3 linked regions of the Homo sapiens genome follow. The protein of the gene in region 2 purifies or fractionates together with the protein of the main gene of each other region. This does not show direct contact. Each region holds a gene or a part of one and is shown on either strand. Other genes may lie near its edges. The genes, in order: SCAP, TSPAN16 and ECEL1.

The links.
Region 1: the proteins of TSPAN16 (region 2) and SCAP purify together in Homo sapiens (affinity purification with mass spectrometry; one large-scale study listed by BioGRID and IntAct). This does not show direct contact.
Region 3: the proteins of TSPAN16 (region 2) and ECEL1 purify together in Homo sapiens (affinity purification with mass spectrometry; one large-scale study listed by BioGRID and IntAct). This does not show direct contact.

What each region holds. Positions count from the first base shown.
Region 1 is NC_000003.12:47,465,930-47,469,582, forward strand, and holds part of SCAP (sterol regulatory element-binding protein cleavage-activating protein), read right to left. Parts: exon of another isoform or gene 2,124-3,653; intron 520-2,123; exon of another isoform or gene 420-519; intron 1-419. UniProt on the Homo sapiens protein: Escort protein required for cholesterol as well as lipid homeostasis.
Region 2 is NC_000019.10:11,294,653-11,298,405, forward strand, and holds the start of TSPAN16 (tetraspanin-16), read left to right. Parts: upstream 1-1,507; 5' UTR 1,508-1,645; coding exon 1,646-1,714; intron 1,715-1,850; exon of another isoform or gene 1,851-1,944; intron 1,945-3,489; coding exon 3,490-3,687; intron 3,688-3,753.
Region 3 is NC_000002.12:232,479,275-232,482,181, reverse strand, and holds the end of ECEL1 (endothelin-converting enzyme-like 1), read left to right. Parts: intron 1-332; coding exon 333-400; intron 401-551; coding exon 552-676; intron 677-1,025; coding exon 1,026-1,091; intron 1,092-1,368; coding exon 1,369-1,464; intron 1,465-1,706; coding exon 1,707-1,783; intron 1,784-1,929; coding exon 1,930-2,029; 3' UTR 2,030-2,355; downstream 2,356-2,907. UniProt on the Homo sapiens protein: May contribute to the degradation of peptide hormones and be involved in the inactivation of neuronal peptides.

The sequences.
Region 1 (3,653 bases), on a different chromosome or scaffold from region 2:
CGAGACCATCTTGGCCAACATGGTGAAACCCCGTCTCTACTAAAAATACAAAAATTAGCTGGGCGTGGTGGCAGGTGCCTGTAATATCAACTACTCAGGAGGCTGAGGCAGGAGAATCGCTTGAACCCAGGAGGTGGAGTTTGCAGTGAGCCAAGATTGCGTCACTGCACTCCAGCCTGACAACAGAGTGAGACTGTCTTAAAAACCAAAAAAAAAAAAAAAAAAAAAGAAAGAAATTCTCCCCATTACTTTGTCCAAAGAAAAAAGTGGGAACCCTGAATAGCCAAAACAAACTTGAAAAACAAGAACTAAGTTGAGGACTCACACTTCCTGATTTCAAAACTTACTATAAAGCTACAGTAAGCAGAACAATGTGGTACTGGCATAAGGTCAGACATATAAAACAATAGAGAGCCCAGATCTTCTGTAGTTCATCAGTATGATACCTGGGTGTTTCACACACATGTGAGATGAGTCATTCTTGAACCTTGTTATGATGTCAGCACTACCCATCTAACCTGAAAAAAAGAAAAGAAGAAGAAAAAAGAACCCAAAAATAAACTCTCACAAATATAATCAACTGATTTTTGACAAAGATGCCATGACCAGTCACTGGGGAAAGGACAGTCTCTTCAACAAATGCTACTGGGAAAACTGGATAGTTACACGCAAAAGTGAAGTTGGACTCTTATACACAAAAATTAACTCAAAATAGATCAAATAAATGAAAAAAGAAGAGCTAAAACTGTAAAGCCCTTAGAAGAAAATATAAGAAAAAGATCTTCATGATGCTGAGTTTAGCAAGGATTGAAAAGTATAGGCAACAAAAGAAAAAAATTGATAAACTGGAATTCATAAAAATTAAAAACTTTTGGCCGGGCGTGGTGGCTCACGCCTTAATCCTAGCACTTTGGGAAGCCAAGGCAAGCGGACTGCTTGAGCTCAGAAGTTTGAGACCAGCCTGGACAACATGGCAAGACCCCATATCTTAAAAAAAAATAAATACAAAAAAAATTAGCCAGGCATGGTGGTGTGCACCTGTAGTTTCAGCTACTTGAGAGGCTGAGGTGGGAGGACTGCTTGAGTCCAGGAAGTGGAGGCTGCAATGAGCCAACACTGTAGCACTGCACTCCACCCTGGGTGACTGAGGGAGACTCTGTCTTAAAAAAGAAAAAAAAAAAAAAGTTAAAAATTGTGCAAATCACACAATAAAGAGAGTGAAATGCTAACCAACAGAATGGGAGAAACTATTCACAAATCATATATCTAACAAGGGTTTAATATCCAGAATTTGTAAAGAATTCCTACAACTCAACAATAACAACAAAATAACAATTAATAACTCAAAGTGAGAAAAGGACTTGAATGAACATTTCTCTAAAGAAGATATACAGGCTCGGTGGGGTGGCTCATGCCTGTAATCCCACCACTTTGGAAGGCTGAGGTGGATGGGTCACTTGAGCTCAGGAGTTCAAGGCCAGCCTAGGCAACATGGTGAAACCCCATCTCCACAAAAAATATGAATATAAGCCAGGCATGGGGGCACATGCCTGCAGTCCCAGCTACTTGGAAGACTGAGGTGGGAGGATCACTTGGGACCAGAGGCTTGAGGCTGCAGTCAACTGTGATTGCGCCACTGCAGTCTGGGCAACAGAGCAAGAAGACCCCGTCTCAAGAAAAAGAAAAAGAAAAAAAAACCCAAACAACAACAAAAAAGAAGATATACAAATGGCCAATCAACATATGAAAAATTGCTCAACATCAATATTCCTTAGAAAATACAAATTGAAATCACAATGAGATACCAATTCCCACCCACTGGCCCTTGGGTACATGTGCACAACATACAGGTTTGTTACATATGCATACATGTGCCATGTTGGTGTGCTGCACCCGTTAACTCGTCATTTACATTAGGTTTATCTCCTAATGCTATCCCTCCCCCCTCCCCCCATCCCCCGGCAGGCCCTGGTGAGTGATGTTCCCATGTCCAGGTGTTCTCATTGTTCAATTCCCACCTATGAGTGAGAACATGCGGTGTTTGGTTTTCTGTCCTTGCGATAGTTTGCTCAGAATGATGGTTTCCAGCTTCATCCATGTACCTATAAAGGACATGAACTCACCTTTTTTTATGGCTGCATAGTATTCCATGGTGTATATGTGCCACATTTTCTTAATCCAGTCTATCATTGATGGACATTTGGGTTGGTTCCAAGTCTTTGCTATTGTGAATAGTGCCGTAATAAACATACGTGTGCATGTGCCTTTATAGCAGCATGATTTATAATCCTTTGGGTATATGCCCAGTAATGGGATGGCTGGGTCAAATGGTATTTCTAGTTCTAGATCCTTGAGGAATCGCCACACTGTCTTCCACAATGGTTGAACTAGTTTACAGTCCCACCAACAGTGTAAAAGGGTTCCTATTTCTCCACATCCTCTCCAGCACCTGTTGTTTCCTGACTTTTTAATGATCCCCATTCTAACTGGTGTGAGGGTATCTCATTGTGGTTTTGATTTGCATTTCTCTGATGGCCAGTGACGACAAGCATTTTTTCATGTGTCTGTTGGCTGCATAAATGTCTTCTTTTGAGAAGTGTCTGTTCATATGCTTCACCCACTTTTTGATAGGGTTGTTTGATTTTTTTCTTGTAAATCTGTTTAAGTTCTTTGTAGATTCTGGATATTAGCCCTTTGTCAGATGGGTAGATTGTAAAAATTTTCTCCCACTCTGTAGGTTGCCTGTTCAGTCTGATGGTAGTTTCTTTTGCTGTGTAGAAGCTCTTTAGTTTAATTAGATCCCATTTGTCAATTTTGGCTTTTGTTGCCATTGCTTTTGGTGTTTTAGTCATGAAGTCCTTGCCCATGCCTATGGCCTGAATGGTATTGCCTAGGTTTTCTTCTAGGGTTTTTATGGTTTTAGGTCTAACATTTAAGTCTTTAATCCATCTTGAATTGATTTTTGTATAAGGTGTAAGGAAGGGATCCAGTTTCAGCTTTCTACATATGGCTCCTGGATCGATAGTTTCTATGTAGAATAATGAAAACATTCTGGAAATGGATAGTGATGATGGTTGCATAACAATGTGAATACATTTAATGTCACTAAATAGTACACTTAAAAATGGTTAAAATGGGCCAGGCACGTTGGCTCACACCTGCAATCCCAGCACTTGGGGATGCCAAGGTGGGCAGATCACTTGAGGTCAGGAGTTCAAGACCAGCCTGGCCAACATGGTGAAACCCTATCTCTACAAAAAATACAAAAATTAGCCGGGTGTGGTGGCACATGCCTGTAGTCCCAGCTACTTGGTAAGCTGAGACAGAAGAATCGCTTGAACCGGGAGGCAAAGGTTGCGGTGAGCAGAGACCACGCCGTTGCATTCCAGCTTGAGTGACAAGGAGACTCCGTCTCAAAAAAAAAATCACCAAATAATTTTTGTTTGTTTGTTTTGAGAGTCTTGTTCGGTCACCCAGGCTGGAGTGCTGTGACACGATCCTGGCTCACTGCAACCTTTACCTCTGGGTCCAAACAATTCTTCCTCAGCTTCCCAAGTAGCTAGAATTACAGGTGCGTGCCACCATGACCCTGCTAATTTTTGTATTTTTAGTACAGGCAAGGTTTCACCATGTTGGCCAAGCTGGTCTTGAAC
Region 2 (3,753 bases):
CCTCGGCCTCCCAAAGTGCTGGGATTACTGGCGTGAGCCACCGCGCCTGGCTTCAAATGACCTCTTAAATAAAGGTGTGGAAGGACACACTCCTGGCTGTGAACAGCACCCGTGGTCCAGGAGGAGACAGCACTCCTCTGTGAACATCTTGCTTAGTTCTACATGTTCCAAGAAGCAGGCGATTTGACAGACATTCATTAAATTAATTAAAGTGTAAGGTATTTTCTCCCATTTGAACCATCCGCCTTCCCCCAATCCATGCAGGACCTGGACCCAGACACACCCCAGCCCAGGGCTGGACAGAGAGGGGATCGGGGTGGGGCAATGTGAAGCTGCTATGGTTAGGGTGGGGAGGTATGGGGGCAAAGTGGGCTACAGACTGCAGGATCTAGGCCTGGAGGTCTTCAGTGCTGACATACAGAAGGTTTTTGGTCCTGAAATGCTAACTACATCTATCACCATGGAGAAAAGCCCAATGACCTGCTACTTGGGAGGCTAAGGTGGGAGGATCACTTGAGCCAGGGAGGTCGTGGCTGCAGTAAGCCATGATCACACCACTGCACTCCAGCCTGGGCAATGGAGCAAGATCCTGTCTCAAAAGAAAAAAACCCAGTGACCAATGGCTCACAGTTCCAGGACTCTCTGCCTTACAGGTTCCTGCCCTCATGTTACTCTTGGGGCTTCAAAGCCTGGTCTTGCTTCCTGTGTGGCCTCAGGCAGTTCCCTTGGCCTCTCTGAGCCCTGTATGAAGGATGGGCCAAGTATGGGCTTGGGCTTGGGAGGCCCGGTGGCTTGTAGCTAGATTTCTGCATCACAGAGCCTCTGGATCCATTCATTCATTCTCCGCGGGTTTCTTAAGTACTGCAGTGCCAGGCTTTGGGGACACAGCTGTTTTTGTTTTTGTTTTGTTTTGTTTGAGACAGAGTCTCACTCCGTCAACCAGGCTGGAGTGGAATGGCACGACCTCAGATCACTGCAACCTCCACCTCCTGGGTTCAAGTGATTCTCCTGCCCCAGCCTCCCAAGTAGCTGGGATTATAGGCGTGTGCCACCACACCCAGGTAATTTTTGTATTGTTTGTATTGTTAGTAGGTCTCAAACTCCTGACCTCAGGTGATTCGCCCGTCTCCGCCTCCCAACATGCTTTGACTACAGGTGTGAGCCACTGCGCCTGGCAGGGGTCACAGCTGTTAATAGGACAGCCCAAGTTCCCCCCTCCCCCGCTTGGATCCCCCAGTCTACTAGGAGATGTCAACTGTGCAAGTGGTTAGCTCTGGGCACTATGCCCACAGGGTCCTGGTGGCATCTGGAGGGTACCAGGGTAGCATACCATGCCTGTTCTCTTTCCCTGCTGTGACCTGTTTGAAGGATGAGGAGCCAACAGGGGGCAGTTTGGGGCACCTGATTTCCCTGGACCATGAGCCTTGCTCCAGAACCCAATTGTGATGTGATAAAAGGCTTATGACCAGGGCAGGGGGCAGCTGCTGGGCCGCCTTGGACAACCATCAGGCAGCCAGGACACAGAGGGGCAGAGCAAGTCAGCATTGGCGCCCCTTCCTCAGATCCCTATCATCTTGGGAAACAGTAGCCCAGAGGTTCAGGAAGATGTTAACTTAAATGTTCAGGGTGCCCCAGTCTGTTCAGCATGGCTGAAATCCACACTCCGTATTCTTCCTTGAAGAAACTGTTATCTTTACTCAATGGCTTCGTGGCTGTAAGTATGTCACAATCCAGGCCCCTGGTTTGTTGCAGCCCTTCCTCCACAGTCAGCTCCCTGAAAGACAGAAATAAGTTGATCCAAATTGGCATCGAGATCTGTGGTTCCCTGGAGAAGCAGGAGGGATGTAGGGCAGACGGAGGAGGAGGAGCAGGGAGCGTGGGGACCTCCATCAACCGAGAGCTGGTGAAATCCAGCACAGATGAGTGTGATCTGGGGGAGCCCAGGTGGGTGATGGAAGAGCTTGGCTCTAAGTCAAATCCTGTAGCCGACCAAGTTGTTTGGGAAGGCCAGGAGAAAGGGTTATTTTCTTGATCTTTTAAATTTGTCACATTTTTTTCCTTACCGTAAAAGTAACCCGAAATGTACATTGCTAAGGAATTGTCAGGCCGGGGGCGCTGGCTCATGCCTGTAATCCCAACGCTTTGGGAGGCCAAGGCGGGTGGATCACGAGGTCAGGAGTTCAAGACCAGCCTTGGTCAATATGGGGAAACCCCATCTCTACTAAAAATACAAAAAAATTAGATGGGCGTGGTGGCACGTGCCTATAATCCCAGCTACTCAGGAGGCTGAGGCATGTGAATTGCTTGAACCTGGGCGGCAGAGGTTGGCAGTGAGCCGAGATTGTGTCACTGCACTCCAGCCTGGGCAACATAGCGAGACTCTGTCTCAATAAAAAAATAAAAGAATAAAAACATAAAAAGAAGTAATTGTCTTCATTGTAGCATAGTCTAAGGAAAAGCTGCCAGGAAAGAGAAGGAAATGAAATATCACTCCTCCTCTTCACTTGTAACATTTTAAAGAGAATTAAGGCCGGCTGTGGTGACTCATGCCTGTAATCCCAGCACTTTGGGAGGCCGAGGTGGGCAGATCCATTGAGCCAGGAGCTCGAGACCAGCTATAGTGAGATCCCCATCTCTATTTAAAAAATAATAATACAAAATAAAGTGTTATTGGAACATGGCCGTGCTCACTTATTTGGAGATTGTGAACAGCTGCTTTTGGGCTACACCAATAGAACTGCGTAGTTTCAACAGACACCTTAAGTCCTGCAGAGGCCACAACATCTGGGTTTTTCAGAAAAAAAAAATTGCTAATCCCTGTCCTATGACATTATTTTATTTTATTTTATTTTATTTTATTTTGAGACGGAGTCTTGCTCTGTCACCCAGGCTGGAGTGCAGTGGCATGATCTCAGCTCACTGCAACCTCCACCTCCCAGGTTTAAGCGATTCTTCTGCCTCAGCCTCCTGAGTAGCTGGGATTACAGGTGCCCACCACCACGCCCGGCCAATTTTTGTATTTTTAGTAGAGACAGGGTTTCGCCATGTTGGCCAGGCTGGTCTCGAACTCCTGACCTCAGGTGATCCACCTGCTTCGGCCTCCCAAAGTGCTGGGATTACAGGTGTGAGCCACTGTGGCTGGCCTATTTTATTTTTTGAGACAAGGTCTTGATCTGTCATCCAGGCTGGAGTACAGTGGCACAGTCATAGCTCACTGCAGTCTCAACCTCATGAGCTAAAGTGATCCTCCCACTGCAGACACCTGAGTAGCTGAGACTACAGGCACGCACTACTACTGGCTATTTTTTTTTTGTTGGGGAGAGGGTACAGATGAGGTCTTACCAAGCTGGTCTTGAACTCCTGGGCTCAAGTCTTGGCCTTGGCCTCCCAAAGTGCTGGGATTACAGGCATGAGCCACCGCACTCACCCAGTTCTATTTGTATACAACTAACAGATTACTTTTCTTCCTTTCTGGTTTCTGTTCTAAAGGTGTCTGGCATCATCCTAGTTGGCCTGGGCATTGGTGGTAAATGTGGAGGGGCCTCTCTGACGAATGTCCTCGGGCTGTCCTCCGCATACCTCCTTCACGTTGGCAACCTGTGCCTGGTGATGGGATGCATCACGGTACTGCTTGGCTGTGCCGGGTGGTATGGAGCGACTAAAGAGAGCAGAGGCACGCTCTTGTTTGTAAGTTGGATCTGCACACAGACCCCAGAACTGCCTCCCCACACACACAAATCTTTTATTGTGCGT
Region 3 (2,907 bases), on a different chromosome or scaffold from region 2:
ATGTTTCAAAGGTGGCGCAACACTAATGATGAGGTAGGAGGAGAAACCCCTACGTAGGTGCCTCCGTTTCCCTCCTGTCTCCTCCAGCCCTGTTTCACTGCCCAGCCAGCTCTGTTAGATGTGATTTCCTAAAAGAAGCTGGATAGGTTCCACTGGCATTCACATAGCGCATGAGGAAGCTGAGGCACATGTGCCCCTGGACCGCACGGATGCCTCTGTGGCCTCCCTGTGCCACCTCCTGGCCCGGCCAGGGGACATCTGGGGCCTGGGCAGCAGCATGGGGCTCTCAGAGGGTGGAGGGCTAGGGCCTGATGCTGCTGCTGTGGGCCCAGGTCTCTCAACTACGGGGGCATCGGCACCATCATTGGACATGAGCTGACCCACGGCTACGACGACTGGGGTGAGGCCTGTTGGGGCCCCAGGGGATGGCCCGGAGGGGGCAGGACAGGCAGTGGAGAGGCAGGGTAGGGGATGGCCTAACTGGGGCTGGTGGGTGGGGAGGGGAGGGGGCTCAGGTGAGGGTGGGTCTCAGCCTGCTGCACTGCCCACAGGGGGCCAGTATGACCGCTCAGGGAACCTGCTGCACTGGTGGACGGAGGCCTCCTACAGCCGCTTCCTGCGAAAGGCTGAGTGCATCGTCCGTCTCTATGACAACTTCACTGTCTACAACCAGCGGGTGAGACCCCCACCTGCCCCTTGTGCCCCTCAGGCCTGGTGGGGCACGGGCCGGGAGCATCACGCACACCCTTGCGCACGTGCACATGTCCAAACAAAACCTGTGCCCAGGTCCCTGCACACACATTCGGTTCCCACGCACACTCACGTGGACAGATAATGAGTGTCCGCAGACTTACGGAGGACAAGGGGGTTGGGAGGAAAGAGTAGGGTTGGAGCCCCCCCTCAAACTCTCTGGGCAAGGGAAGGAGAGGGGTGGTAGGAATTAGGGGCTGGGGCCCAGGGTATCAATGCCTGAGGGAGGCCAGCTGGGCCCCAAGCAGCCCCCTGGCCTCTTCCCTTCCCGGCAGGTGAACGGGAAACACACGCTTGGGGAGAACATCGCAGATATGGGCGGCCTCAAGCTGGCCTACCACGTGAGCGGCCTGCCTGTGCTCCACCCCTGCTGCAGGAGGGACGGGGGCTGATGAGGACTCCAGATGAGGGACAGAGCTGCCTCTCCCTGCCCACCCTGCTGAGCTCTGGCCTGGGGTGGGGCAGGGCATGTGCTGGGGCCACGGTCCACTGGAAGAGGAAGGATTCACGGGCCCCCCTTCACAGGGAGAGCAGGGAGGGCTACCTAGATGGAGGACAGAGAAGAAGCGGTGCCCAGGGTGGGCGGGCATAGCAGGTCCATGCTCTCTGTGTCCCCAGGCCTATCAGAAGTGGGTGCGGGAGCACGGCCCAGAGCACCCACTTCCCCGGCTCAAGTACACACATGACCAGCTCTTCTTCATTGCCTTTGCCCAGGTGGGCTGGGTGGGGGATTGGACTGGGAGCCTTGGGGTGGGGACACGGCATCCAGGGTCAGTCCCAGTCCTGCCTTGCCCAGGCTTCGCATGGACAGCCTGTCTGTCATCACCTGTCCCGTCAGAGGTGATGGTCCTGTGGTGCTGAGGGGGCCTACCGCCTTGTGTGCTGGGTGGGGGGCAAGGGGGCGGATGCCTGGCTTCATCTCCCCCTCCTCCCCTCCACCCCGCTCCTGGACCCAGAACTGGTGCATCAAGCGGCGGTCGCAGTCCATCTACCTGCAGGTGCTGACTGACAAGCATGCCCCTGAGCACTACAGGTATGCCCACCTGCCCGCCTGGCCTTGTCCACTCCTTGTGTTTGGGGTGGGATCAGGGGGCATGGGAAGGAATAAAAGTCACCCCTGGTTGCTGGGGCTGGAGTGGCTGCAGGGCCCAACACTGTGTGGGTCTCTCCCCACCCCAGGGTGCTGGGCAGTGTGTCCCAGTTTGAGGAGTTTGGCCGGGCTTTCCACTGTCCCAAGGACTCACCCATGAACCCTGCCCACAAGTGTTCCGTGTGGTGAGCCTGGCTGCCCGCCTGCACGCCCCCACTGCCCCCGCACGAATCACCTCCTGCTGGCTACCGGGGCAGGCATGCACCCGGTGCCAGCCCCGCTCTGGGCACCACCTGCCTTCCAGCCCCTCCAGGACCCGGTCCCCCTGCTGCCCCTCACTTCAGGAGGGGCCTGGAGCAGGGTGAGGCTGGACTTTGGGGGGCTGTGAGGGAAATATACTGGGGTCCCCAGATTCTGCTCTAAGGGGGCCAGACCCTCTGCCAGGCTGGATTGTACGGGCCCCACCTTCGCTGTGTTCTTGCTGCAAAGTCTGGTCAATAAATCACTGCACTGTTGCCTTGGCCTCTTCACGGGTCCCCAGGGCAGGCGGAGCTGGAGAGAGCCCTCTGCAGGGAGGCTAGGGCACTTAGCACAACCGGGACCCTGGAGAGGACCTTCTTGTCTCCTGGTCGCCCTGGCTTGGCCGCCTGTGTCCAGCCTTCCTGGACTCTTCTATCTTTTCCACCAACCGACAGTACTTCCCTGGCCCAGCCGCCCTCCCCCAAAGCCTCGCCCAGGGCTTCTTGCCCAGTTCTGGGGCACCCCTAGTTCAGCCTCATGGCCTGGTGACCCGCATTCCAGGGTGATGCTGGGGCTTATGACCCCTGCAAGTCTGAAGTAGGAGAAACTTCTGCCTTGTCTTAGCCTGGCCCTTGGCCTCAGCCTCCCTGGAGAAGGGGATAGCGATCCACACTTACATGGAGGTGAGGCTGACCCACAGGACATCTCAGCCTCTCCTCCAGTGTGGAGACAGGCTTCTGGGGTGCAGAAAGGAGAGGACTGGTAGGAATGGTAGGCTCCTGGCATGAGGAGGGTGGACAGAGGCAGGGAGTGCTGCCCAGGCTGGA